Homo sapiens: one gene and its partners. The protein of the gene in region 2 interacts with the protein of the main gene of each other region in a pairwise test. Each region holds a gene or a part of one and is shown on either strand. Other genes may lie near its edges. The genes, in order: ACP1, SFMBT1, PSMA1 and ATOSB.

What was found.
Region 1: the proteins of SFMBT1 (region 2) and ACP1 interact in a two-hybrid assay, tested with the Homo sapiens proteins (one large-scale study listed by BioGRID and IntAct).
Region 3: the proteins of SFMBT1 (region 2) and PSMA1 interact in a two-hybrid assay, tested with the Homo sapiens proteins (one large-scale study listed by BioGRID and IntAct).
Region 4: the proteins of SFMBT1 (region 2) and ATOSB interact in binary tests that used the Homo sapiens proteins (3 or more experiments, as listed by UniProt).

What each region holds. Positions count from the first base shown.
Region 1 is NC_000002.12:274,947-279,514, forward strand, and holds the end of ACP1 (low molecular weight phosphotyrosine protein phosphatase), read left to right. Parts: intron 1-193; coding exon 194-255; intron 256-2,033; coding exon 2,034-2,139; intron 2,140-2,280; coding exon 2,281-2,358; 3' UTR 2,359-3,337; downstream 3,338-4,568. UniProt on the Homo sapiens protein: Acts on tyrosine phosphorylated proteins, low-MW aryl phosphates and natural and synthetic acyl phosphates with differences in substrate specificity between isoform 1 and isoform 2.
Region 2 is NC_000003.12:52,904,631-52,912,405, forward strand, and holds part of SFMBT1 (scm-like with four MBT domains protein 1), read right to left. Parts: intron 6,549-7,775; coding exon 6,373-6,548; intron 3,104-6,372; coding exon 2,925-3,103; intron 2,685-2,924; coding exon 2,439-2,684; intron 1,612-2,438; coding exon 1,483-1,611; intron 647-1,482; coding exon 506-646; 3' UTR 1-505. UniProt on the Homo sapiens protein: Histone-binding protein, which is part of various corepressor complexes. Mediates the recruitment of corepressor complexes to target genes, followed by chromatin compaction and repression of transcription.
Region 3 is NC_000011.10:14,506,112-14,513,886, reverse strand, and holds part of PSMA1 (proteasome subunit alpha type-1), read left to right. Parts: coding exon 1-70; intron 71-187; coding exon 188-317; intron 318-2,935; coding exon 2,936-3,015; intron 3,016-6,120; coding exon 6,121-6,231; intron 6,232-7,775. UniProt on the Homo sapiens protein: Component of the 20S core proteasome complex involved in the proteolytic degradation of most intracellular proteins. This complex plays numerous essential roles within the cell by associating with different regulatory particles.
Region 4 is NC_000009.12:35,103,268-35,111,042, reverse strand, and holds the end of ATOSB (atos homolog protein B), read left to right. Parts: exon of another isoform or gene 1-1,383; intron 1,384-1,412; exon of another isoform or gene 1,413-1,838; intron 1,839-2,305; 5' UTR 2,306-2,449; intron 2,450-2,693; 5' UTR 2,694-2,768; coding exon 2,769-3,662; intron 3,663-4,151; coding exon 4,152-4,210; intron 4,211-4,399; coding exon 4,400-4,505; intron 4,506-4,632; coding exon 4,633-4,791; intron 4,792-5,033; coding exon 5,034-5,102; intron 5,103-5,185; coding exon 5,186-5,361; intron 5,362-5,668; coding exon 5,669-5,822; 3' UTR 5,823-6,926; downstream 6,927-7,775. UniProt on the Homo sapiens protein: Transcription regulator that may syncronize transcriptional and translational programs.

The DNA of each region.
Region 1 (4,568 bases), on a different chromosome or scaffold from region 2:
ATTTCTTTGCAGTACAATTTTGAGAAATAGGTTAACTCTATTTTAACTTAAAAGTACCCTAAAAATTATTTAATTGTTTATTAGTGAGTAACAGGCTCAAATACAGCAGTTTTTTTTTTCTTTTAGTATTGCTTTGCATCCTCTAGGCTTGAATGGTATAAACACTGTGTTTTGACTTCTTATTCAATTTTAGATTACCAAAGAAGATTTTGCCACATTTGATTATATACTATGTATGGATGAAAGCAATCTGAGGTAATCCTGTTTTTGAAGAATATTTCTGTTCAACTCTCAGTTCAGCAGTGGGCCAAGTAATTTGTTGTCCAGATTTACTTTTTCTATTTTAAAGGTTTTAATAGTCAGTGATGGTCACCATATGTAGAATTATTTTATTTAGAACAGCAAAAAACTTAGTAATCTAGAATTGTCTCTTAGGTATTTACAAGGAAATACACCTTAGAAAAGGGAAAGTCTAGTTGTTAATAGCATGATTTAATTGGAAAACTAGCTTGGCTGTTATAGTTTTGTATCAAGCATATTGTTCTGCATGAGAACGATTTTGATATTTTTGCTGTAATGATTCCTGGGCAGGGCAGTGTTTTATTGATTCTCAGGTCAAAGCTCTGCAACCATAGGTTCCTATTATTATCCCATCTTGTAAAAGAAGGAAGTGAGAAACGGTAATGTTAGGTTATGTCCCCGAGTTCACACAGCTAGCATGTGGTGGATGTCATGGGATTTAAGCCTAGGCTCAGTGAGGAAGGGCCCTGCTGTATGCACCCCTGCCTCAGTCACCACCCTCCTGACCTGCCCCAGTCCCATGTTCAAGGCGTCATCGGGAACGGATCATAATTTAATGTCACTCCAGGATTCTGACTTGCATCACTACTTATTCATAAATATCTCATGTTTTTGATGAAGATAAACTATTTGTGCTTTTAATTACTTTTGTACAAATGAACAGATAGGGATGCACCAGTTTCAATTATTTTTTATTAATTAGGACCTTCATTAAAATGCATGTATTTTTTAATTTTTATTTTTCAGTCCTTATTCTGTTCTCATTGTTTTTGCTGACACCATAGCCCATAGGCATCGTAAAAACACCTTTTTAGGAGACCCCATTTGCTTTGACTGGCACTGAGCACCGTGTTTCTTTGCGTGTGGGGCAAGTGGAGTTCCTGCAGCCTCACATTTGCACGTGCTGTTCCTCTGCCTGGAAGCTCCTCCTTGCTTCTTGGGTCATTCGGCTCCTATTTGCCCCTCGTGGGTCAGCTTAAATTCATTTCTTGATAGAGGTATTCTGCTGCCCTGTCATTAGGCCAGATTGTGCATTAGACTTAGGCCTGCCTGCAGTTCTCATTCCTGCACCTAATCCTGAGCTGTAAAACTTCGTGCATGGGAGCTCTTGGCTGTTCCGTTCCCACATAAAGCACGTACCTGACTCATCAACTCATCTGTCGCAGGTGCTCAGTCGAAATTTGTTAAATAAATGGAGGCGCTTAGTTAAGTTTGCCTTTTTCTTTTGTAGCAATGTGAAAGCTAAGGGTGGAAGTCTAGAGTGAAGCTGAGTTTTCAGCTTGGGCAGAGGCTTAAGGAATAAAAGATGGAAGAGTAATTAAGGAGTGGGTCGTGCTGTGGGAAGTGCTGTGTCAAGACACCTGAGGATGGAATTGGTAGCCCTCTGTTTTGGGACTGGTTCAGATGGTGTTTTGGGTTCCTTTCTATGACCTTTATCTCTGAAACTTGATTGTCTTAAAATGTATTTTGTGGGAGAAAATATAATTATTGTATATTTTGTGTAACAGAATCAGTGAGAATAAGCTGCTGTCGCAAACTGTCTTGCCTAGAGAGAGGGCAGTGGCATACAGCTGCAGAAGGGGCCACACGGGCCTGCTGAGTGTTCCGTTTCATTTCAAATTAGGTCATTCTGTCTTGATTTTGATATGGATGTTTCAGAACACCCTAGCAGATGTCCCTGTTTAACTTGAAACCATAGATCAGAAAACTAAGTTCATATTTCAATTTTACAGAGATTTGAATAGAAAAAGTAATCAAGTTAAAACCTGCAAAGCTAAAATTGAACTACTTGGGAGCTATGATCCACAAAAACAACTTATTATTGAAGATCCCTATTATGTAAGTACAGTTCACGTTTTAGGGCTAATATGAAGACCCAACACATTTGTATCCTGCCATATTAAATAACAGATGAGATTGTGTTAAGGATGTTTTTGTTATGCAGGTTTTGCCATTTTCTTCTTTTTCCTGTCCATTTAGGGGAATGACTCTGACTTTGAGACGGTGTACCAGCAGTGTGTCAGGTGCTGCAGAGCGTTCTTGGAGAAGGCCCACTGAGGCAGGTTCGTGCCCTGCTGCGGCCAGCCTGACTAGACCCCACCCTGAGGTCCTGCATTTCTCAGTCGGTGTGTAATCACGTTCCAGGGCCCAAAGCCCAGCTCTTTGTTCAGTTGACTTACTGTTTCTTACCTTAAAAAGTAATTGTAGATGGAAATCAGTTGTGTTTGGCAGGAGAATCAATAAAAATCTTTGATTCAGACAGCTTATGGGGTATTTTAAGCATTCTTAGACTAGTTGAACATCTCACTTTGCCCCAGTTACAAAAATAGTAGAACAAGCAACATAAAACAATGAAGGAAAACCTCACTTGAAGGCCCAGGTCAACATCTAAGCCTGTTGAGACTTAGATAATCGAGTCTACCTCTTCAGTAGGTTTGTGTGGATGGCCTGGAGGGCAGGTGCCCTCTGCTCCCCAGTGCTACCTCTCTCTTCCCTAGGGCCTTTTGTGGATTGACAGTAGTCCCCTCCGTAGGAGCTCACAGTCTAGATTAGAAGTGTTTTAATTTCTACACACCCATAGTGCACACTTGTATATTGAAAAGATAGGGAAGAGAGAAACATTTATGGAATCAGTCGTTGGCACCTTCAATACTTCATGATTTTTGTCGAGTTTACTTCATGAGGAGGTCAGCCCATTGGCTCCCATCTGAACCACTTTGCCTCTGAAACTTAATTACATCCAGAAAGAAGGACACTTGTATGCTAGTCTATGGTCAGTTGAGGAATATGACTGTTTTTATATGCACATGTAACCCAAATGTCCAATATAAATTGGCTTATTTTTTAAAATAATTTTAAAAGTTGGGAAAAGTGTTATTATTTGGCATGCTTAAATATTGAATAAGTATTCTTCATCAGCATTTAATAAATGTATAGGCAGATGTAAGGTAATTTCTGTGTATTTTGAGATAATGTCAAAATCATGAATATTTCAAAATAAACTGGGGAGTTATAAAAATACAACTAGAGATATAAATCTGGTGTCTGCCTGTTTTTTTATTGACAGGTAAGGAAGCATTTGAAAACATTGTATTGTCCTTTTTACATGATCTGTGATGTTAGGTGTGCATATTTTATCTTCAGGATAAGGAAGTAAAATGATGAAAATAAGCACATTGCTGCCCCATGTCATCATGTCTAGTTTCTGAAGGAAGTTTGAGGTTCTACAGCTGGAACTGTCCTTGCCCAGTACCATCCTCTGGACATGTTGCCTCTACGCTGTGCCCTCCTGTGCAGTGATGCACAGCTGCCTGGCCAGGACATCTGCACTCCTGACCTCAGTATCATGAGGGTCCCAGGCAGTGCCATGGGGAGGAGACACGTTTGATCCTTGACTCCCTAGTATCTGGAGGATAAGCTGTTGCCAGATGAAAGTGAGTAGTTTCCCCACTGTACCATGTGGAAGTGCCAGGCTGTCTTCATAGGAAGAAAGTTTGCAAACCCAGTGAGTCTTGCTCTTGTTGGAATTACTCAGACATACAGAAAACTGAGGGGATTAAATATTAATAGATTGGATATTTGAACATGAAATCCTTAAAACATAAAAAATGGGGAAGGAAAGGTCAAGTAATGAGCTGTAATTAGAAAACAGGATTAAATAAGAGCACTTCAAAAGTTACACCCTGTTCTCTTCATTCAGTAATTGCTTTTAATCTCAAAGTCAAAATTTCTTACTCTTCTATTCCTTTATGTTTGGAAATAAAATCCTATAGTTTTTCTTTAATGTTTATCTCTATAAATACAGATCCTCAAACAAATCCTAGGACTCTTGACTATTCTGTCCTTATGGCTACACCCAGACGATACCATCTGCCGACAAGGGCTCATATGAATGGAGAAACTCATTGCTTTGCCGAATTCAGCTTTTTAAATTGGATCCAATTAGATTTGTTTAAAATACATCTACATCTAAAATTCTGAGACTGCTTAGAAGTCTTAAGGTTTCTCCTAGTTAAGCATTTTCATGATTACAAAATCGCTTGGGAAATAATGGATACAACCTTATTTGGAATATTTCCCAGCAAATCAGGGACTATCTTAGGAAATTATGTCACCAATATATAGTAGCCTTTACTTTAAAAAAAATGCTAATTATCCCTTAGAGAAATTCTTAGGCTTCAAGTTTTCATTTGTTTATGGCTTTCATATTCTATGACCTTTTGCCAGTGTCATGATCTCTCAGTAAATCAGAAGTCACGAATTCCCAA
Region 2 (7,775 bases):
TTTAATTTTAAAAAGTTTAAAAACACAATGACAATGAAGCACTGATATGCCTTAGGAACAGTCCCAAATCAGTGCTGACTTAAAGCTAAGTCCTCTCTTTCCAAGAAAAAGAAAGCAGAGAACAAAGTTCAATCTACAATGGGAGGGAACAGAATGAAAACAACCAAAAGGGTGCTTTCCAGCAGCCTAGGTTATTCTTTGTTTTCAGGCCACACCACTGGAAATGCTTTTCTTCTTATATAAGTCTTTTCCTCACAACCTTTATTTTTTAAAAACTGCCATCTGCTGAACAAGAGATGTCCACATTTCCACCAGCAGGTGATCCACTTCTGTGCACAGTTTTTGCTTCCTCACTGTGAGTCCTCCTTCCCCGAAAGTGCAAAGAGAGCAAGCTGATACCTGCAGGCCCCAGAGCCCCAGGACTATTCCAGCTCCACTTATAAAGCAGGGTGAAGGATTTGCTGCATTTGTGCTTCAAAGATCCAGCTCACTTTGGTTGTCCTTCTCAGTTGGCAAACTGCTCATAAAAAGCAAACTTGATCCTCTCTATGTGATGGCAAAGTTTGATGGCAGGGCCCAATTTTAAGTCCATGCATTCTTGAACAGTGGGAAGGGTAAGGAGCAACAGGGCCTGCCCATCAATTTCCTGTTAAAGCATAAAAGACAAATTATCTGTGATGTGCACATGAAAGGCAGCTTGATCATGACAGCCTCTCCTCACTTTAGCTCTGTCAAAACTGGAATCCCTATGCTTTCCTTTCCTTACTTTTTCGTCTTAGGTATCACACACTTCCTTTTAAGTGACTCCATAGTCTTCCACACTAATGAAGCTTCAGAATTAATAAAGTTTTACTGAGGACAATAAAGTTTTACCAAGGATAAGAATCCATTCCAGAGTCTCTGTCCCATAGAAATTTAGTAAACTGACTAGCCCTGTAACTGGCAACTAATTGTGCCATCTTTTTAGAGGGTTCCTTCTAAATCTGAAACAAAGGATTAACTATCAACTTCAATGTTTTCCTACTCTGTAACATTCATAAAAACCCGATAAGCTCTTGAATCTCCCTAATTTTCTAAACAAAACTTATTTCAATGTTTAAGGCCACTGACTGTGTTTCAGCAAGCTTGCCTTAAAACTTATCACCACTCTAGAGCCTAATGTGACAGATGCTATTTTTTTTTAAACAAGCAAATCATTATTTTTGAAAAGATGTGGACAATTAAGCATGGTATGCTTGATATTGGAGGGATGGAATCAAATTCTTAGGAAAAACTGGAATGCAATGATAATCTCCTTCAACTATGAAGCAAGTCTGATAAATAACTTTTTATCATCTTTGACTCCTAAAAATGGAATTAAGACAATTCTTGTCTTTTGGATCAAAACATTTTTCCTAAAACTTGTAAATAAATTGTTGACTATTACATCCATAATTTATTGCTAAAGAGACATTACTAAAAATTATAGGTATCTGTGATTACCTGGTCTAGGAATATTCTTGCTAATGGAGCACAGTCAGTGGATCTGATGAACCGCACAACGTCTGCCACACTCCACTTCAAGGGGTTACTGTCCAGGTGAAGCCTTTCAGCAACTTCGATCCTTATTTCCTTCATTCCCCACAACACAATCAAACCAAATGGTGTTACGGCTATTTTATTCTAAAAAAGTCTCTCTACCTAAATTCATAATCTTTCAAGACATGATTTAAAGTGGTCTTAGGACATGATTTCTCCCAGCAAAGATGGCAAAGACCCACGTGCATCAGGTACTCAGGAAATGTCTGTCTTTTATAATACGAAGTATCAATGGGAAAGAATTTATCTCAAAGTTCCAGCACAGATAATTTAGACAATTTAACTAAGAAAAACAGGGTGCTGAAGAGAAGGGGATGATAATTCCATTGAGAGAAGGCTTAACTAAACTACCAGGAGGAATCTTTACTGCTTCTGTTCATGGAATATTCTTAAAAAGCAATCTAGTTTTTGAACACTAAATTGTTCTTTAGTGTTATACATATGTTATAAAATGTTCATATGTATATAGTAAATAATATATTAAGCCAAATGGCTTAACCAGAATCAAAAGGATAACTTTTTTCTACAAAACCATATATATTATGAAACATATTAAAAAGGCAGTTTTCCCAAAAATAAATGACAAGCTACAAATAAGCTAGCAATGGGGCTTTTTTTGTTGTTGTTGTTAAAACAAGCAGCTACTCTGAGAGAGACTTTCCCCCTATAAGTAGATGATCTCAACTAATCCTTGAAACACATGTAAATCACTGCATTTGGGGTCACTTTACAAGAGACCCTGGAAATTCTACATAAGTCTGTATTGAAAGAAGTAGAATGTCAATATCACTAATAATCATATTCCAGATGGAAATTCCAGAGAGAAAGAAAGAAAAAAGAAACTATTTTTTAAATGGTACCTTTGGTGAAGGAGGTTTATTTTCATCGTCAGAAAATGAAAAGGTGCGAAGCTCCCTTTTTCTCCTTTGTCTATCTGGAGGCAGCGATGTGGATATCTCACTTTGGGTGGGAGAAGAGGAGCATGACTTTTTTTCTGACATTTCTGATTCTTCCTGTAGCTCATCCTGCTGCTCGGATGTACTGCCTTCACTTAGGGAATCATCATCCCCTTCATCTGGGTCATCCTCATCTTCACCCCCACTTCCCTGCAGGAAAAGGAGAGAAGTCTCATTGAAATTCAGGACATCAATCCCAGGTTTCATATGATTAAAAAAAAATAATAAAGAAAGAAAAGAAATTCAGGACAAACCAGTTCTTGGGCCACAAAACCATCTTCTATTGGCCAGAGATCTGAGTTAGAAAGACCTGCAGGTATTCTGTGTCCATACTATAAAGCAGTGGTCACTTGGCTTCAAGACATTACAGGCACATCACAGATCTCATACCTGGGGAGAGCCCGCTGGGGTATTATCAACAGATGCAGAGGAGCGTTTCTTCTTATGAACAAAAACATTTTTCCGCCTCTTTCTCCTCTTACTGGCTTTTTTCAGGGCACAAGCTAAGTTACTATGCCCACCAGGTGGCCTCCCAATTCTTTTATTTTTCTTCTTTCCGTAATAGTGTGCTAAATGTGGATGACAAAGAAAAATGAAGTAGCTTCATTATTTTTGTGTACCTCAAAACCACAAGAGATTTTATTAGCATAGCAAAAAACAGGTACATTGTATTTGATTGGGGTTTAAATTCCATAGAGTGGAATAAACAGATCTGAAGTGCACGGTTTGACTAGTACTGAATGATCCCTCCATATCAAAGTATATAGAACATCTTCAACCCAGAAAGCTCCCATGGTCCCTTCCCAGTCAGTACCCCTTACTAGAAGCAGCCACTATTCTAAACACTATCACTATAGATTAGCTTTGCCTCTATGGAACCACACAGTAAGCACTTTTTTGTGTGTGACTTTTTTTTTTTTTTTTTTTTGAGATGGAGTCTTGCTCTGTCGCCAGGCTGGAGTGGAGTGGCACGATCTCGGCTCACTGCAACCTCTGCCTCCCAGGTTCAAGCAATTCATCTGCCTCAGCCTCCTGAGTAGCTGGGATTACAGGCACACACCACCATGCCCGGCTAATTTTTATACTTTTAGTAGAGACGGGGTTTCACCATGTTGGCCAGGATGGTTTCAATCTCTTGACCTCATGATCTGCCCGCCTTGGCCTCCCAAAGTGCTGGGATTACAGGCATGAGCCACCACGTCCAGCAGCCATGTGTGACTTCTTCTACTAGGCATAATGTTTTTGAGTCGTGTGTTTTATTATATGTTTCTTTTCTATTTGGATATCTGGTTGTACCAGTGCTATTTGTTAAAAAGAATTTCCTTTCTCCCTTAAATTTCTTCATCTCTCTTGTTGAAAATCATTTAACCATGTTAAGTTTGGCTCTATTTCTGGACCCTGTGGTCTGTCCCATTGTTCTATTTTTTTGAGACAGAGTCTGTCACCCAGGCTGGAGTGCAGTGGCGTGATCTTGGCTCACTGCAACCTCCACCGCCTGGGTTCATGTGATTCTCCTGCCTCAGCCTCCTGAGTAGCTGGGACTACAGGCGTCTGCCACCACACGCCCAGCTAATTTGTGTATTTTCACTAGAGACGGGGTTTCACCATGTTGGTCAGGCTGGTCTTGAACTCCTGACCTCAGGTGATCTGCCTGCCTCGGCCTCCCAAAGTGCTGGGACTACAGGTGTGAGCCACCGCACCCGGCTTGACTATTCTTTAATGCCACACTCTTGATTATTATAACTTTATGGTTAAAAAAAGAGAGAGACTAAGTCTTCCAACTTTATTCTTTTTTCCAAATTGTTTCAGCTATTCTAGATCCTCTGCATTTTCATATAAATTTTAGAATATACATTCCAGAAATGAAACATACATATTCTAGCTGAGTTATGTATTAAAGTAATATCAAAATATAATACAATTTTGTGAAAAAAATGGAAATTTTCTAAAGGATACGAATCCATTTGACATCATTCAAATTACTAACTGGGAAAAATTATAACTGTCCTTCTAAATTCTAGGCTAATTTCAACTATATTATTGTGAAAGATAAATTCAGACAAAAGGCACAATAAAATCCACATATCTTCCCCTCACATATCTTCCTTCAGAGTAGTGTGCTTATATATGCATTTACATGAATAGTATTTTTCACTCAGCTCCTAATAATTGCAGTTTCCTAAACTAAGTGCTGAGTCTGATACAAGAAGCTAAGATAATTCCTACTCTTAAGGAGTTTACAATCCAATAAATATAAATAGAAACTAGAAGGTTAGACTTATAAGATTTTGTAATTTAAATACTGATTAGAAAGCTCGTCATACTAAGTATGGACCTTGGATCAATAGCATCAGTGGCATCTGGGAACTTGTTGGAAATGCAGATAGATACTCAGGACCCAGATACCCACAGACCTGATACATCAGAAGCTCCATTTTAACAAGATCCTTCAGTGATCTGCATGCACTATAGTTTAAGAGGCACAGATCCCTAAAAGAAATCTTTCCATTTTAACAAGGTAAAAATCCTCCTCTGTAGTGATTCTCCCAAGTGACATAGGGCTTGTAGGATTTAAGGAAAGGTAGGATCAGAATTTTGTCTTTGGGTGGCAATGCCTTGACAAGGCTCCAAATTGTAAATTTCATCCTATGTGACCCCTGCCCCAGTTTCTCAAAGAAGATAAGCAAGGACAGCGAATAGGTGCTATGACAGTTCAAGGTGAGGTTGCAACTACCTCCTCTCCTATTTCCACCTCCCCAACTAGTGTGGCTTCATTGCTGCTCTTCAGAGACACTAAGCAAGCTTCTGCCTCAAGCCTGTGCCCTTGATGCCCCCTCCCCAGAACACTCCCACCCAGCTCTCTGCACAGCTGGCTCCTGTTTCCTTCAAGGTGTTACCTGTCAGAAAGACTTCCCTGACCCCTTGCATAAACAGCACCCCACCTCCCAGCCTTCCTCACTGTCCTATTTTGCTTGCCCACCTTGCTTCACTGTTCCCCACAGTATTTCTCTAAATACTGACCCCTCTCTAAATTTCTTCCCTTGTTTGTTATCTGTCTCCCACATTAAAGGTAAACTCACTGAGGATAGGAATTTGTTTTCTTTATTGTTGTATCCCAGTGCTAGAGCAGCATAAGCACACAATGAGCACAAAATATATACTTGCAGATTGTATGAATGAATTACATATCCTATTAGATACAATAACTAATTTATATACATGCTATATATAAAAGTTGGCACACTAAAGCCCATGAGTCAAGTCTGGCCCATGACCTGTTTTGGTATAGCCCCCAAGCCAAAAATTACCCTTACATTTTTTAAAGGGTTCTTTTTTTTTGGAGACACAGAGTCTCGTTTTGTCACCCAGGCTGGAGTGCAGTGGCGCAATCTCAGCTCACTGCAACCTTCATCTCCCGCTTTCAAGTGATTCTCCTGCCTCAGCCTCCCAAGCAGCTGGGATTACGGGCAGGTGCCACCACACCCAGCTAGTTTTTCTATTTTTAGTAGAGACGGGGTTTCACCATGTTGGCCAGACTGGTCTCGAACTCCTGACCTCAAGTGATCCGCCTGCCTCGGCCTCCCAAAGTGCTGGGATTACAGGCATGAGCCACCACACCCGGCCAAAAGGGTTCTTAAAAAATGAAAACACAACACATAGAAAAAGAATATGTGACAGAAAGCATATGACCCACAACATGAAATATTTATCATCTGGCCCTTTACAGAAGAAGTTCGTGTGCCTCTGCTATATATGAATGTCTGTAAAGTAAAAAACTTTCCAAGATGTAAGGTATGGTCAGCTGCTATGGTTAACACATTGGAAAAACATGACTCACTGTATTTGGTCTTTGTAAGTACAGAACAGTTCTCAGAACACTTATCCAGAACCATCCGTGGACCGAAGAGGTTAGGACAGCATTCCAGTTTGATACAGGTTTGCCGGCAGAATTCAGTCACCCGATCTGCTGTTTTCACTATCTCAACAGTAGCCCGATAACTCTTTCCTTTATATCTGCCATTGGAAGACATCAGATGCCAAATATATTGGGCTAATGATTACCCAGAGAAAAATCAAACATATTAATACACCTAAAAAATATTTTTGCTTCTTGGAATATTCTATGTCCTTTATAGTTCAAGGGCCCTGAAAACAACAAGGAAGTTCTGCATATTGAACTTAAATCAAATTAAATCTGGTAAGCTATGACAACTAAAAGCTGAGTTATTTAAATTAGCAAAATTAAGCTCCTGCTTTCTGTTCCTAAGTTAAGGTTTTCAAATAGTAATTTCACTAACTGCTCTAAAAAGAAAAGTGACTTTTCACTAAGTCTTTCTTTACCCTTGGCAGTGATCCTCAGACTGTTATCCAAGGACCAGTATGACCTGCCAATTGCCTGCCATCCATCCATGACAAGATCAGAAAGCAAGAGTACCTGTTTATAACCTTTCACAGTAATTTGAAAAAGTAATTTTATGTCTCTTACATCTAATAACAAAAATTGTTCTTGCATTTTTATGTCTTAAATTTCTTATTTCCTTTTTGTTTTTGAGATAGAGTCTCGCTCTGTCACCCAGGCTGGATGAAGTGCAGTGGCATGATCTCAGCTCACTGCAACCTCCGCCTCCCAGGTCAAGAGATTCTCCTGCCTCAGCCTCCCAAGTAGCTGGGATTACAGGCACACACCACGACACCTGGCTAATTTTTGTATTTTGAGTAGAGACAGGGTTTCACTATGTTGGCCAGGCTGGTCTTGAACTCCTGACCTCAGGTGATCCGCCCACCTCAGCCTCCCAGAGTGCTAGGATTAGGGGCGTGAGCCACGGTGCCCGGTCTTAAATTTCGTATTTCTTATAATTCATTCTATCATATTTTATAAATGTATTGATCCATGAAAGAATGGAAATCTAAAAAAGAAAAACAAGCCTGGGCCTTCACCACAAATAGCTGAAAAAGCCCTGCCTAAGGAAACATAAGGCTTCTGATATTATCCACAGAACTGATTCTGTGAATTTTTTTTGTTGTTTTTTGTTTGAGACAGAATCTCCCTCTGTCACCCAGGCTACAATGTAGTGGCACGATCTCAGCTCACTGCAACCTCCACCTCCTGGGTTCAAGCAATCCTCCTGCCTCAGCCTCCCAAGTAGCTGGGATTACAGGCGTGTGCACCGTGTCTGGCTAATTTTTGTATTTTTAGTAGAGACAGGGTTTCATCATGTTGACCAGGCTGGTCTTGAACTC
Region 3 (7,775 bases), on a different chromosome or scaffold from region 2:
GACCCAGATACCAACACAACGATATGGCCGGAGACCATATGGTGTTGGTCTCCTTATTGCTGGTTATGATGTAAGTTCATTGAATATTGTTATATGTTAATGATTTTTTTTAATTAACTAGAAATTTTTATAATTTTTAGTTCAACCAAAGTAAATAATTATGTGGTGTATTTATTTCTATTTGTAGGATATGGGCCCTCACATTTTCCAAACCTGTCCATCTGCTAACTATTTTGACTGCAGAGCCATGTCCATTGGAGCCCGTTCCCAATCAGCTCGTACTTACTTGGAGAGACATATGTCTGAATTTATGGAGTGTAAGTGACAGCCTTGCTTTTTTTTTTTTTTTTTTTTGCCTTTTCCAGTCTATATAGTAAATAAACATAGTATCCTAAATGCATAAAACTGTAAGTCTTATAGAAAGAATTTTTTTAAAAAAAATTATGCCCATGAAGAGTTTATTGTTTCTGTCACATATACTAATCTTAACTTCTGGTTACCACAGTAGTTTCAAGCACGAGTAGAACTTTTTCAAAATATAAATGTGTTCCCAACCTTGAAAATTCTTGATTCATTTGGTCAGAAGTGTGCCCTGTGGAGTGGAGAGTGGAGAACCACTGTACTACCTGCCAGTTGTAAGCTCTGTTCACTTTTAGTTTTCTGTGAGTCTTTTGTTATTTTAAGCCACACAGACATTTCTGCATTAGTAGTCCATAAACAAGAAATAAAAAGGCAGTGTAGTTGAGGGAGAAGAAGGTAAAAGAGGTAAGATGTTATGACAGGACAGGTTTTCAAGTGCTTTGCTTTGCATTGGAAGGAGGGTATCGGGTTTTACATTTCTCTTTGTCATCTTATCTGTTTTCTGGTGACAAAGCATTCTTTGGAGGAAATATTTGGGGTTTAGTGAATGCAGAGAAAAATAGTTTAATTGACATTACTCAAAGCAAACTTGTGGGATGACAATAGGTTTAACTTTGGGAAAAGAGGATTCCTTGGACAAATAAGCTTGGTAAATGCTGGCTTAAAGTTTAACATTGTAAATTATGGTAAATGGTTTGGGGTCCCCAAGGTTACCCCTAAATTTGGAGATATGCTAGGACTTAAAGCGCACAGCATATAGTTGTACTCCCAGGTAAGACTTTTAACAATAAAATAACAGTACATAGGTGGATCATTAAGGAAAAATACAGTCCAGAGGAATCTATGTGCAGGCTTCCTTATGCTCTTTCCTTCCCATAAGGAGTCACAGAGTACACTTGCAGCAATATGTATGTGATGTTTCTGCCCAGAGAAGCTCATTAGAAACTCAGTGTCCAAAGTTTGGTTCAGAACTGCTCATATCAGCACCCTCTGCCTAGCACATTTCAACCTGGATAGGAAATTCCTAAAGATTGCAATAAATCTATAGATAATTTTGGGGAGTACTGCTACTTTGATGATACAAAGCATCTGATCCATGAACATGGAATATCTTCATTTATTTAGGTATTTAATTCTTTTTTTTTTTTTCCTGAGACGGGGTTTCACTGTTTTTGCCCAGGCTGGAGTGCAATGGCGCGATCTCGGCTTATTGCAACCTCTGCCTCCCAGGTTCAAGCAATTCTCCTGCCTCAGCCTCCTGAGTAGCTGGGATTGCAGGCATGCGCCACCACGCCTGGCTAATTTTGTATTTTTAGTAGAGACGGGGTTTCTCCATGTTGGTCAGGCTGGTCTCAAACTCCCGACCTCAGGCGATCCGCCCAACTGGGCCTCCCAAAGTGCTGGGATTACAGGCGTGAGCCACCACACCCAACCAGGTATTTAATTCTTTCACTGATGTTTTGTAGTTTTCAGTGTACAAATCATATTTGTCTTAAAGTATTTTATTATTTTTGGTGCTGTTGTGAACAGAATTGTTTTCTTAATTTCATTGCATATTATTCATTGCAACTATATAGAAATACAGTTGATTTTTATATATCAATCTTATATCCTGCAATCTTGCTGAACTTGTTTATTAGTTCTAGTCATTTTTTTATAGATTCCTAAGATCATGTTGTCTGGGAATAGAGATAGTTTTACTTTCTCCTTTCTAACTGCCGTGGCTGGAACCTCTGGTACAATGATGAATATAAGTTGCATGAACAAACCTTCTTTTTTTTGTTCCTAAACTTAAGGGAAAAGGTTTTAGTCATTCACTGCTAAGATTGATGTTACCTGTCAGCTTTTTGTAGATGCCCTCTATCAGACTGAAGAGGTTCCTTTCAATTACTAGTTTGTTTTGTGTTTTTATTATGCAAACATTTTAGGTTTTATCACGTGCTTTTTATGCATCTCTTGGGGTGGTTATGCAGGTTTTCTCCCTTCCTTCAGTGTAACTGAAAATTACACTGACTTTCAGTTGTTAAACTAACTTATTCTTGGGATAAATCTCACTTGTATATGGTATATAATTTTTTTAATGTGTTGCCAGGTTCCGTTTGTAGTTTTTGTTGAGGGTTTTGTTTTGTTTTGTTTTGTTTTTGCATCTATATTGGGTCTGTAGTTTTATTTTCTTGTGATGTTTTTATTCTTGTTATCGGTAATACTGGCCACATAGAATAAGTTGGAGATTCCTTTTTACAATGAGCAAATATAAGGACTAGGATTCTACAGAACACATTCTACAAAACTTGGAGTTGTATAATTTATAGTCGGGATTTTGATTTGACCTAGCAAAAGAGAAGATCAAAATCGTAACAAAAATCATGAGTCCTCTCATTAAATAAAATAAGAATCAGCAATGTCATAGAATGCTATTAAAAGATTATATGACTAGCATTAAACTTGGCTGTTTTTACTGTGATAAATTTAGTGTGTAACTAAAAACCACAATTTGAGACTGTAGATTTGATAAATAACAGAAGCCTAGCATAACAATGAAATTAAGAAATAATTGTTAATTTATTACATATAGGTAATTTAAATGAACTAGTTAAACATGGTCTGCGTGCCTTAAGAGAGACGCTTCCTGCAGAACAGGACCTGACTACAAAGGTAAGTATTGTCTTTTCCAATTGTAGATATTAACGTTACAGTTTAAACCTTTATTGCATAAATGTAATGGAGTATATATGCAACATTCTGTAATTTGGGATATGATTGTCTTGGCAGATTCTTTTCCTTTAAGCTATTTGCTAAGTAATCCAATTTTATTTTTTAAACATTTCTTTTTGGTACAAAGCAGTAAAACCAGTAAATTTCATGCAAAATGTCCTTCATTATTTTCAGCAGATTGGCATATCTTGGTATTATTTAGTTAACAAAAATATATATATATTGAGCACCTACCATGTGCAGGCACTTTCTAAGCATTGAAAATACAGTAAACACAACAAATAACTTTTTCTTCATGGAACGTACATCCTAGTAGGGAAAGATAGACAGTATATACATAAGTACATTATATAGTATATTAGAAGAAGATAAATGCTATGTAAAAAATAAAAAAGCGTTAAAAGGAGAAAGAATGACCAATTGGATGTAGGTAGGTGTAATTTAAAATAGGTGGTTGAGGATATTCTCACCAAGAAAATGAAATTTGAGGAAAAGATATAAAGGAGGTAAGTGAGTATGAGCTATGCAGATCTAGAGCAAAATTATTCTAGGAAATACAAATGCAAAGGCCCTAGTATTTAAGGCAAGGAGGCCAGTAGTGTTGAGGTCAATCATCGAGAGGAAGAGGAAAAGGGAAGAAATCAGAGAGGTAATGGAGGTCCCATAAGCCATTGTGGTTACTCTGCATTTTACTCTGGGTGGGCTGTTAAGAGTTTGAGCAGAGGAATACCATGATTTGGTTTAGGTTTTAAAACAGTCACTCTGTTTGGCATTTTAACGACAGATTGAGGCTGGGCGCGGTGGCTCACGCCTGTAATCCCAGCACTTTGGGAGACCAAGGCAGGTGGATCACGAGGTCAGGAGATCAAGACTATCCTGGCTAACACGGTGAAACCCCATCTCTACTAAAAATACAAAAAATTAGCCGGGCTTGGTGGCAGGCGCCTGTAGTCCCAGCTACTCGGGAGGCTGAGGCAGGAGAATGGCGTGAACCTGGGAGGTGGAGCTTGCAGTGAGCTGAGATTGCGCCACTGCACTCCAGCCTGTCCAGCCTGGGCGACAGAGCGAGACTCCGTCTCAAAAAAAAAAAAAAAAAAACAACCGGTTTGTGGGCCAGCCGCAGTGGCTCACGCCTGTAATCCCAACACTTTGGGAGGCTGAGGTGAGTGGATCACTTGAGATCAGGAGTTCGAGACCAGCCTGGCCAACACGATGAAACCCTGTCTCTATTAAAAATACAAAAATCAGCCGGGCGTGGCGGTGCATGCACTCCAGCCTGGGTGACAAAGCAAAACTCCATCTCAAAAAAAAAAAAAACAGATTGTAGGGGTAGATAGATAGTGGGGCTATGGGTAGAAATAGTTTTAAGGCTATTCAGGTAATTATGTGAGAGATGATAGTGATTGCAGCAGAGTGACAGAGTTAAAGATGAAGAGTAGTGGTTCAATTTTGGATATCTTTTGAAATTACAGCCAAAAAAGTTTGCTAATAGATTTGTTATAGGGTGTGAGGGGGGAATGTCTCCAAGGTTTTGGGCCTAATTAATTGGAATGAAAGATTTATGATTTACTGAGGTGAAGAAGATAGTGGGAGGAACAGGTTTTAGAGTAGGCGTTGGGGAGGAAGGTCAGGCAGTCAGTTGCGGACATGTAAAATTTGAAATGCCTTTTTGTCTAATTGACGGTACAGAGTAAGCAGTTATAAGCAACACGTGGAGTTCCATGGAGAGTGGTCCAACCTACATTTCAAATTTTTGAAGTCTTTATATAGAAATGGCATTTAGAGTCTGGACTGGAAGAGATTCCTAAAGGAATTGAATAGTTAGACAAGCATTGTGAGGACTGGACCAAGAACACTAACCTTTAGCAACTGGGAGATGAGTTAGGTGTTGGCAAAAAAGACTGAGAGAGGTGGTCAAAGAAGTAGGAGGAAAACTTGGAAAATGAGGCATCTTTGGAGGCAAACGAATAAACTTTCAAGGAGGAGGGGCAATGAAGTTGTCACTGAGGACCTGACAAAACAGGCTTAATGGAATAATAAGGCAAAAACCTGATAGTGGAATCAGGAGAGAATGGGAGACGAGGAATTGCAGATAGCTTTTTGGAGGATATTTCTGTTGACGGTCACTCTGTCACTCTGCTCCAATCGCTATCATCTCTCACATGAATTACCTGAATAGCCTTAAAACTATTTCTACCCATAGCCCCACTATCTATTTACCCCTACAATCTGGGTTTTTTTTTTTTTTTTGAGATGGAGTGGTGACTGGAAGAGGAGAGAAATAAATTGTTTTGTTTTTTAAGATGGAAGAAATTACATCACATTTGCTGCATGATTGTGAGAGTAATCCAAGTAAATTTAGGGAAGCATTTATGAGGAAAAATAATGAGAAAATTGTTAGAACAATGTCCTTTAATAGTACATAGGTGGAAGGGTTGGCCTTAGGAAGTTTTAATGGGAAAGGAGAGAATCTAGGGACATAGGTACAGGAAAGAGTGGATACAGTGGGAACTTGTGAAAGTTCTCTTCTAATTGCTTCTGTTTTCGCAGTAATATAGGAACAAGGTTTTCAGCTTCAAAGAGCTTGGAGAATGTTAGAAGTGTCTAAAAGAAGGGGAGCATGAATGATGTAGAAATGGGTATAGTGGGATCCAGGAACCACTAAGGCCTACTTGAAGTTAATGATCATTAATAAAGTGAGATTAGTCAGTTTTATAAAGCCATTTTGTTATGGTGATTGGATAATTATTGTTTAATATCAATGTGAAGACTTTATAGCCTGCATTATCTTTTTAAAAAAATGTTTCTAGATAACATAGATCTTTGGAGTTACTCATGATAATCAAAAGTTAGTATTAATATTAAATCTGCAAATGACAAGGGTCCACTAGTTTCCTTCTTTTTTCTCCTACACATAAGTGGTTTTTAAGGTTTTATTCAAATGCTATATAAATTCTTATTCTGCTTTTTTCACCCAATATTTTATCGTATGTATTTTTTCATCCAAATTCTCTTATTTTACTTTTACCATATTTTACCCTTCAGAATGTTTCCATTGGAATTGTTGGTAAAGACTTGGAGTTTACAATCTATGATGATGATGATGTGTCTCCATTCCTGGAAGGTCTTGAAGAAAGACCACAGAGAAAGGCACAGGTATATAATCATAACACAAGAGGCTTTAGTTCTATTGTAAGCTGCTGTTCTTACCACAACTGTGTCTGTAAATTTTCCATTTTGTCTTAAATATTGAAATGGGCCCATAATTCAAATGGCAACAGGAAAATTAAGAACTGAGTAAAGTTAAATATTGAAAGGGCAGTGATCTCCATAAACACAAAAAGGGGGCCGGGTGCGGTGGCTCATGCCTGTAATCCCAGCACTTTGGGAGGCCGAGGCGGGTGAATCACGAGGTCAACAGATGGAGACCATCCTGGCCAACATGGTGAAACCCCGTCTCTACTAAAAATACAAAAATTAGCTGGGCGTCATGGCATGCACCTGTAGTCCCAGCTACTCAGGAGGTGAGGCAGGAGAATCGCTTGAACCCGGGAGGCGGAGGTTGCAGTGAGCTGAGATCCTACCACTGCCCTCCAGCCTGGGCGACAGAGAGAGACTCTGTCTCAAAAAAAAAAAACAAACACAAAAAGGGAGAAGTGTTGATTATTTGGTTATCTATTGCTAGGTAATAAGCTACCCCAAAACTTAGGGGCTAGAACAACAAACACTACTTCTCACAATTTTGCGGCTGACTGGGGCTCACCTACATGGTTCTTTGCTGGTCTCACCTGGGATCTCTCAAACATTGCAGTCATTTGTGGGGTGCAACTGGAACACCCAAGATAACTTCAGTCACATGTCTTCTTTACTCACACCTTTTAGGTGTCTTAGAGGAGCATCTAGAAGGCAGAGACCTCTGCTAGGATGACTGAGCCTCTGTCCACGTAGTTTCAGGGCCGCTTCTTCAGCAGGGTCTCTCTAGCATATTGGCAACTCAGGGCTTGCAAAAGTCAGAAGTGAAAGCCGCCAGGCATTCTTAAGGCTGAGATGCAGGACTGGCACAACATCACTTGTACACATTCTGTTGGTTAAAGTGAGTCACTGGCCTGGCCCAGATTCTGTTTGAGCAGAGACTGGGAGAAATGCTCATTGGGGGCCAGCTTTGGACACTAAGATGGCTCTTCATAAAGAGAAAAGCATCAAGAAGTGAATCTCAGGTGAAATATGGGTCTTTTTGCTAGATGTTTAGAATATACATTTGCTATTTATAGATGCTTATTTGATAGCAGTGTAATTGAAAGTAAAAAAGAATCTAGTATGGAAATTTCTACAGCATGAGTTTTTTTAACTTGGAAAGGATATTGTTGGTACTATTTGGGGGATCAAGATTTGCAATATTTAAACTGTTTTTGGTAAAAACTAGCACTGTTGGGAAGAATGCTGTGGAATACCACAAACTAGTTTGGCAAAGGGGAAAAGAATGTCTAAAAAGTGCTGATTGTATTTTAAACATAGTAGTGATAATACAAGGAAAGCTTTTATTCCTGAGCAATGCAAAGTACGATAAAATGGTGGAATTGTTCAATGATATTTAGGTTTTCAGAAATGTGAAATTATATATACAGTTATCCTCGAACAGTGTGGGGTTTAGTGGTGCCAAACCCCAGCATGGTTGAAAATCCACATATAACTTTTGACTC
Region 4 (7,775 bases), on a different chromosome or scaffold from region 2:
GGGGGCCGAGGGGTTGGTAAGAGAGAAGAAGTCGACCTTCCTACCCACAGTGGTGGTCCGTGGGAACAGCCCCCCTAGCTTGTGTGGATGTATGTAGGGACAAAATAGAGAGCAGCTGGCAGCAGTTCTCTTTGCATAGGATGAGGGTGGAAAGCACATGGATAGGAATTCATCCTGTCACTCTCCTTGATCATGGTAGAAATGGAAATCTTTAATACTGAAGGGAAGGGGAGAATGAGCCTTGAAGCTGATACCTATACCAATACCCACCTCACCCACCTCCCAGGCCTCAAAAGTGTCTAAAGGTACAGACGTATTCTGGGACTTGTTGTTTTTGCTGGCCTTGCTCCCTCAGCATGTTGGGAGCTGTAGTCCTTGCCAGCCACAGCCTGGCACAGCTGTTTGATGCCAGCTGCTGCCCACCCCCTGAACGAAGAGTGAGGCTTGGCCTACTCTGCCCTGCCCCCCTCCCCTGCAGTCCTGCCCCATGAGTCAGCTTGAAGCCATGGTCTAGAGCCAGACTGGCTGGGTGGCAGGGGAGTGAATATAGAGCGTCTTGTTGACAGGGTGGGAACTGAGAGGGCTCTGGGGTTAATAAGCAGATGCCAGGTATGCTGGGGTCAAGTAGGGCATCATGTCATCCCCTGGCTTCCCCAGGGCAAGGGGTCAAGAGGGCAACTGGGATGACCTGGAAGTGGTGGTGCTAGGGAAAAGGCCCCTCCTGAATCTGTATGGCTTGGGTGGAGGAAAGAAGGGTAGAAATTAGTGCAGGTTGTACCTTCTGACAAGGTTGGTTGCAGGTAGGATAGTGCAGGTTGCGATTGGTGTTCTGCCCTTTCCAGCCATCCCGCCCACCACAGGGAACCAGGATTTTCTTAGGGATCCCAATTCTTAGGAGAATTTGGTGAAATGGGATAGTGGGGTACAATGATGGGAACTTGGTGTAGGAGAGCTTTTCAGTCCCTGGGTACAAATCTCTCCTTTCTGCCTGCTCCCCACCCCCACCTCTGTTCCTGATTTTCCCTTGTACAATTAATCTCTCTGCTTCTCTCATCTGGGAAATTTTTCTCTCCACTCTCAGGACTGCTGCTCAGATGTCTGGGACTTGCATTCTACTTTTTTTGAGCCCTGCTGTGTGCTTACCCCTGTACTTGGGGTTGGATGGAGGGGTGGGACACAGATCTGTCCTCAGGAACTCTATGGTCGGTCTAGAAGATGCCTTACCCACAGGAGTGAGCAGAACTGTTAGTGAGCTTACAGGAAGTAGTAACACTGCCATAGGTGAGGTCTCAGAGAAGGGAGAGATGCTTATGGTCTGGGGTGGACAGAGCAGACTTTCTGGAGGAGATGGCATTTGACCTATCCAAGGAGGAAAAGTCTTGGGTAGGCATTCAAAGGGCACTTCTTGAAGGGGAAAGAGCACCGTGAATGTCAGACAGCAAAAGAGAAGGCTGACCCTGGGGGCAGCTGGCTTTCAACTTGACATTCCCCTCACCCTAGTATGGGCTGGAATAGTTAGTGAAGACCATCTTATGCACCCGTGGTTTGGGGTTTTGGTGTTGGGTGTGTGAGCACTGGGGGAGGGGCGTGGAGAGGTACTCCCTAGTTGCTTCCAGCTGACTGACTGCTGCGGCCTTATCTCTAGTTTGCAGGGCCTTGCGGGAGGGCCCTGGAAAGTGCCTTCTGGCAGTGACCCCTTCCCCTTCCCCTTCTTGTTTTTGGTCGGATTTGTTGCCTCTTGTTAAAGAGACAGGCTGCTGGAGGCAATTTGGAGTTCAGGGCTGAAAGGCCAGCTCTGAGCTGACTTGAAATTTGTACCTCTGAGGACCGCTGATGGGGTATAACTGTGTGGGAGACCTCTGCCCTTAGTGCCCTAGGATGGCACTTGTCCCTTTGGAGATAGACATATAAGAAGGAGTTGTGCAATTTGGTGGCTTTGAGTAAGAAAGCTGAATTCTTCCCCTGGCCGCCTCTCAGCTGACACGGTCTCTTGGATCTTGGGGGTCTCTCATCCCTTCCTCCATGTAGGGCAGGAGTCCTCAAATGGTGGCCCTGACAAGTAGTTATTCTACCTCAACTCACTTGTCACATCCTTATTATACTGAGCCAAGACCTGCCTCTTTGACTCCTTAGGTAGCCCAACTCTGCCATCTGTGCCCTGGACCCCAAGCCTACCCTTTCTGTTCCTGAAGAGCCTCTCACATGGGAGAAGGATGTCCTGGAGTGTACTATTAGCCTATAATTGGTGACAGGCCTTACCGCTGGCTCCAGTGATCCTGGCTTACGTCTGTTCTTCTCTCCTCAGGGTCCTGCTGAGCTCAGGAGCTGCACGGAATGGTGGCAGTCACCTTGCCAGTGCAGCAGGCATGGATCAGACTGCAAGCTAGGGGCACGAGGCATCAGTTGGGAAGAGGGGACGCACAGCTAGGCTTGAGGCCTCTTCATCGGGGTAAGTACCAGGGAGAAGAGGGGGAAGTGTGTCCAGTAAGAAGCCTGAGCTAAACCTGTCACCCTCTCAGGAGTTCTGAGAGTGGTCTCTATATTCCATTAGTCCATCCAGGGATTTGTACACATTCATCCTTGGGAACCCATCAAAGTCACCCCTTTAGGCAAGGAGAGGGTCTGAAACTCAGCTGGAAGGAAGAAGACTCATTGATTCCCCTGACCACCTTTTCTTCTCTTCTCTTACACAGATGTCCCCAGGCCCCCCAGCCCAGGCCCAGCATAAAGGCCGTGTTGGGGGGCCCCCCTGACCCAAGGGGGGCTTCATGCGCCACGTGCAGGCGGAGCCGTCTCCATCCTCAGAGCCGGAGGCTGGCCCTTCACAGCCTCCAGTCAGGCAGGGGGCCCTCCAGGGTGGCCTGCTCATGGGCTACAGCCCAGCAGGGGGGGCGACATCCCCCGGGGTCTACCAGGTATCCATCTTTTCCCCTCCGGCTGGTACCTCTGAGCCTCATAGGGCCCTGAAACGACAAGCCCCATCCACTGAGGGTCCCCGGGAGCTGAAGAGAGGCCCTGGGCTGGGGGCCAGAGAGGGACTACCCCCTGAAGAACCATCTACTGTGGGGCTCTTAGGCCCAGAGGGACCGGGGCTGGGACTAGGTGTGGCCAGCCAGCATTTCTCCCACCGTGGCCTCTGTGTTGTGGAACAGAGAAGTAGTGTCACCTCATCTTGGACTTCGGGGGCCTGGAGTCCCCCCTGCCCCCCATCAAATGCTTCCTGCAATACTTTGCACACCAGAGACTGGGCCTCCCCAGATCCAGGGGGACAGGGGTCCCTGGGGGAGTCCCCAGGGCCAGCCCCTCCAGGCCAGCTGCACACACTTGACACTGATTTGCACAGTCTTGCACAAATAGGGGGTAAGAGCCCAGTGGCTGGGGTGGGCAATGGGGGTAGCCTCTGGCCTAGGGAGTCCCCTGGCACTGCCAATGGGCACAGTCCCGAGCACACACCCCCTGGCCCTGGACCCCCAGGCCCCTGCCCCACCAAGCGAAGGCTGCTTCCTGCTGGAGAAGCCCCAGATGTCAGCTCTGAGGAAGAGGGGCCAGCCCCTCGGAGGCGCCGGGGATCCCTGGGCCACCCTACTGCTGCCAACAGTTCTGATGCCAAAGCCACACCCTTCTGGAGCCACCTGCTGCCTGGGCCCAAAGAGCCTGTTTTGGTAAGCCAATAAAGGACCTCATTTACTCTTTTTTTACTTTTTTTTTTTTTTTTTTTTTTTTGAGATGGGATCTCACTCCATCACTGCTGGAGTGCAGTGGCACAATCTCAGCTGACTGCAACCTCCTCCTCCCAGGCTCAAGGGATCCTCCAACCTCAGCCTCCCAAGTATCTGGGACCACAGGCACATGACATTGCACCCAGCTAATTTTTGGTATTTTTGGTAGAAATGGGGTTTCGCCATGTTGCCCAAGCTGGTCTCGAACTCCTGAGCTCAAATCATCGACCCACCTTGGCCTTCTAAAGTGTTGTGATTACAGGCGCTCAAGCCACTGCGCCTGTCCTTCATGTACTCTTAAGTGGATATTTGTGTGGGTAAAGGTGGAGGCCTGGGGGGCAGGGTGTTCCTTTGAGAGTTTGTGATGAGCTTCTGCCCCAAAACATACATGGCCTTCACCCTGTGTCTTTTCCCAATCATTTCTCTCCGTAGGACCCAACAGACTGCGGTCCCATGGGGCGGAGGCTGAAAGGAGCCCGTCGCCTGAAGCTGTAAGTGACCAGCTTTTTCCTCTACCCTGTCCCTGAGAATGGGGGCAGAAGTCTGTACTCTTTCCAGCATCCGAGTAGGGGACCCCAGGGCAGAAGCCCTACATAGTGGCAGAGGGTGGAGTCCAAGGGCATAAGCAGGAATCCCAGAATACCTCAAGCCAACCCCCTGTGTTTCCCTTCCTCTACCAGGAGCCCCCTTCGAAGCCTCCGGAAGGGGCCAGGCCTGCTGAGCCCCCCCAGTGCCTCCCCTGTTCCTACCCCTGCTGTCAGCCGTACCCTGCTGGGCAACTTTGAGGTAGCTCCCGTTGGGGTTTGTGATTGCCGGGGTCCTGGGAGAGGTGGGATGGTGGAATGTGGCTTGGATGGATAAGGAAAAGAATTGGCATCTCTCTCTTCATGTGTTTTCCCTACCCTAATCCCAGGAATCATTGCTGCGAGGACGTTTTGCACCATCTGGCCACATTGAGGGCTTCACAGCAGAAATTGGAGCTAGTGGGTCATACTGCCCCCAGCACGTCACGCTGCCTGTCACTGTCACATTCTTTGATGTTTCTGAGCAAAATGCCCCGGCTCCCTTCCTGGTATGCCTTGACTCCAACCCCAAAGTCAGCTCATCAAGAGGATGAGGATTTGGGGGCGGGGCCAGGGGGCAAGAGGTATTTCTTACTTATTCCTCACCTAGAAGTGAGTCAGGGCCAGGTGAGGAGAACTCTACTGTAGGGCAGGGGCAGGTTCAGGGTGAGAGCTTGTGGAGAGGGACATGTGTTTAGGGCCCAGGGTTTTCCTAGTCCCCACCTTGACTGATGGCTCCCTGGCCTTCCAGGGCATCGTGGATCTGAACCCCTTGGGGAGGAAGGGTTACAGCGTGCCCAAGGTGGGCACCGTCCAAGTGGTGAGTTTGCCCTGAGGGAGTGGGAGTGGGGAGAGAGGAAAGCAGCCCTCAGGCCCTACCAACCTTGACTGTCCTGTCCCTAGACCTTATTTAACCCCAACCAGACTGTGGTAAAGATGTTCCTTGTGACCTTTGACTTCTCGGACATGCCTGCTGCCCACATGACCTTCCTGCGCCATCGCCTCTTTTTGGTGCCTGTGGGTGAGGAGGGAAATGCTAACCCCACCCACCGCCTCCTCTGCTACTTGCTGCACCTCAGGTGAGGAGAGGGCCCAGGGATGGCTGGGGAGGCCCAGGTATCCCCTCCCTGAAGAGGATCTCTCCTTGCTTCGATACTGTCCGGATTCTTGCTTAGTTTATTTTTAAATTTTTATGTATGTATGTACATATATATGTATGTATTCATTTATTTTTAGAGATGGGGTCTCGCTATGTTGCTTAGGCTGGTCTCCAACTCCTGGGCTCAAGCAGTCCTCCCACCTGGGTCTCCCAAAGCACTGGAATTACAGGCATGAGCCACTGAACCCAGCCTGGATTCTTACGTTGATCACATTGTCCTCCTCCAGGTTCCGGAGCTCCCGCTCAGGCCGCTTAAGCCTGCATGGAGATATCCGCCTGCTTTTTTCCCGCCGGAGCCTGGAGCTGGACACAGGGCTCCCCTACGAACTGCAGGCTGTGACCGAGGCCCCTCATAATCCACGTTATTCACCTTTGCCCTGATTGCCAGCACTCTGAACCCATGCGGGCTAATGACCTGCCCATCCTGCTCCATCTTAGAGAACATATATGGAGAGACAGCAAGAGACCCTTCAGGCTTGAATTAAAGCCCTCACCATGCTCACGCCCAAATGGATTATTTGGGTGTTTAAAGCTTCTGATTCTTACTACACCCTGCCCTACTTCGGGTACTCCATGTGCCTGTCCCCTCCCTTGGGTTTCCCAGGCCAGCTTAGGTAGTAGGGAGGAACTGGAGCTACCCTGAGATTTTCTCAAGTTCCCAGGCAAGTTATGCCAGCGTTGCCTCCCTGTCCTGGGCAGGGGCCACTTGTTATTTTATTTATTTTTAATTTATAATTTATTCAAATTGGATTGCCTTGGTAACCTCCCACACCTGATAATTGGCATCACTCCTCCCCGCTTCCCACTCTCAGATATTGCTCCAACCTCAGGAGTTGAAGAGGCTTATGCGGTGGGGGCAGGAGGAGAACTGCTTTCCCTCAGCTGAGGGAAGAGGGGCTATTCCAGAGGGACTGAGTCAGTAGCCAAAGACTCAGCTTCCCCTGTCCTTCCCCAGTCCCTTCACTTCCCCTACCCTCTGACCTATCTCTGAAAGCCAAGTTATGCGTATGTGTGTGTGCACAAGCTTGTCTTTGTGTGGTATGTGTGTGTGAGTGTGCATGTATGCACACACACAGGGGTTAACCACCCCTCACCTAGGGCTCCAGACTCCAGTTGTCCCTCTCCTCCTACCTGTGTCTCCTTGTTTTGGGGTCCTGACTGAAGAAGGTGTCCAGGGGGCAGAGTCAGGGCCAAGCACTGGGGTGCCTCCTCTCACCTGGCCAGACTCTGACCCACCTACCTCAGCTGGGGTGAGGGGCACCCCTCAAACTCAGTCATGTGGTTCCAAACTACCCCATTCCCCACTCCAGACTCTGACCCAGCCTCAGTCCTAACTCCTGGGGCTGGGCTGAGGGGAACAAGCATTTGCTGAAACTTGAAAAAACAAAGCAAATCAAAAACAGGAAAAAATTGTACCTGGTACTTTTTTTTAGAAAAAAAGATTAAAAAAGAAAGAATAAATTCTTGTTTGGAAACTTGAACTAAGCTCTACTTTTGTTGTTGTTGTTGTTGTTGGGGAGAGGGTGTGAAGGGGGATGGAGGGCCTTCCTGGAGCTGGGACTCAGCCCTTTCTACCAGAGAGGCAACAGGCCTGGGCCCATGAGGTCTTAGGCTAGTCCCTGCTGATTCCTGGGGCCTGGTTTTTCTCCTTTCGGAGGGGTTGGTGGGTAAAGTTCAGCCGTAGAAGCTGAACTCTGAATTGTAGATCAGGATTCTAATACTGGTTCTATTAATGACTTTAGCCCCTCAGAACTTCAGTGCCCTCATATGTAAAATGGAGGTGACTACGGAGGTCTCTTGACTACCAGAGCATTAGGGATGTGGGCAAGGTGACATGCTCCAGACAAGGTTGAACGTTGAGGCTGTTTGCTGGACTGTATTTAAGACCGGGCATAACAAACCTTGCTTGGGAAGACAGGGAAGGAGCTGCAGTGTCTTTGAGGAAAGAGGGGAGGGGAAAATCTCGGCCCAATCGCCAGGCAATATTAGGCCCAGTTTCCATGGCAACGGGATTGGGGTCAGTCCCCAGTGGGAGTCCTGGGCACAACACAGCGGGACTACCAGAGAATATCACTATGGCAACCATGGCAACGAGTCAGCTCCAATCCACTAGTCGCTATGGTGACAGATGGGGGCGATACTACGCTCTGGTGGGCAAACTGAGTCTCGGGTGAGGACGAATAATTCAGTGCGTGGTGTCTGAGTGATAATGCCCGCGAAAAATAGCCTCCATTTTGGCCATCAGGCCGGGGATCTTCGGCGTGAACAGCTAAACCCAGAACAACCACAGCCTTCGCCCTTCTCTAGAAGGTCTGCGTTTCCCAGGGAACAACT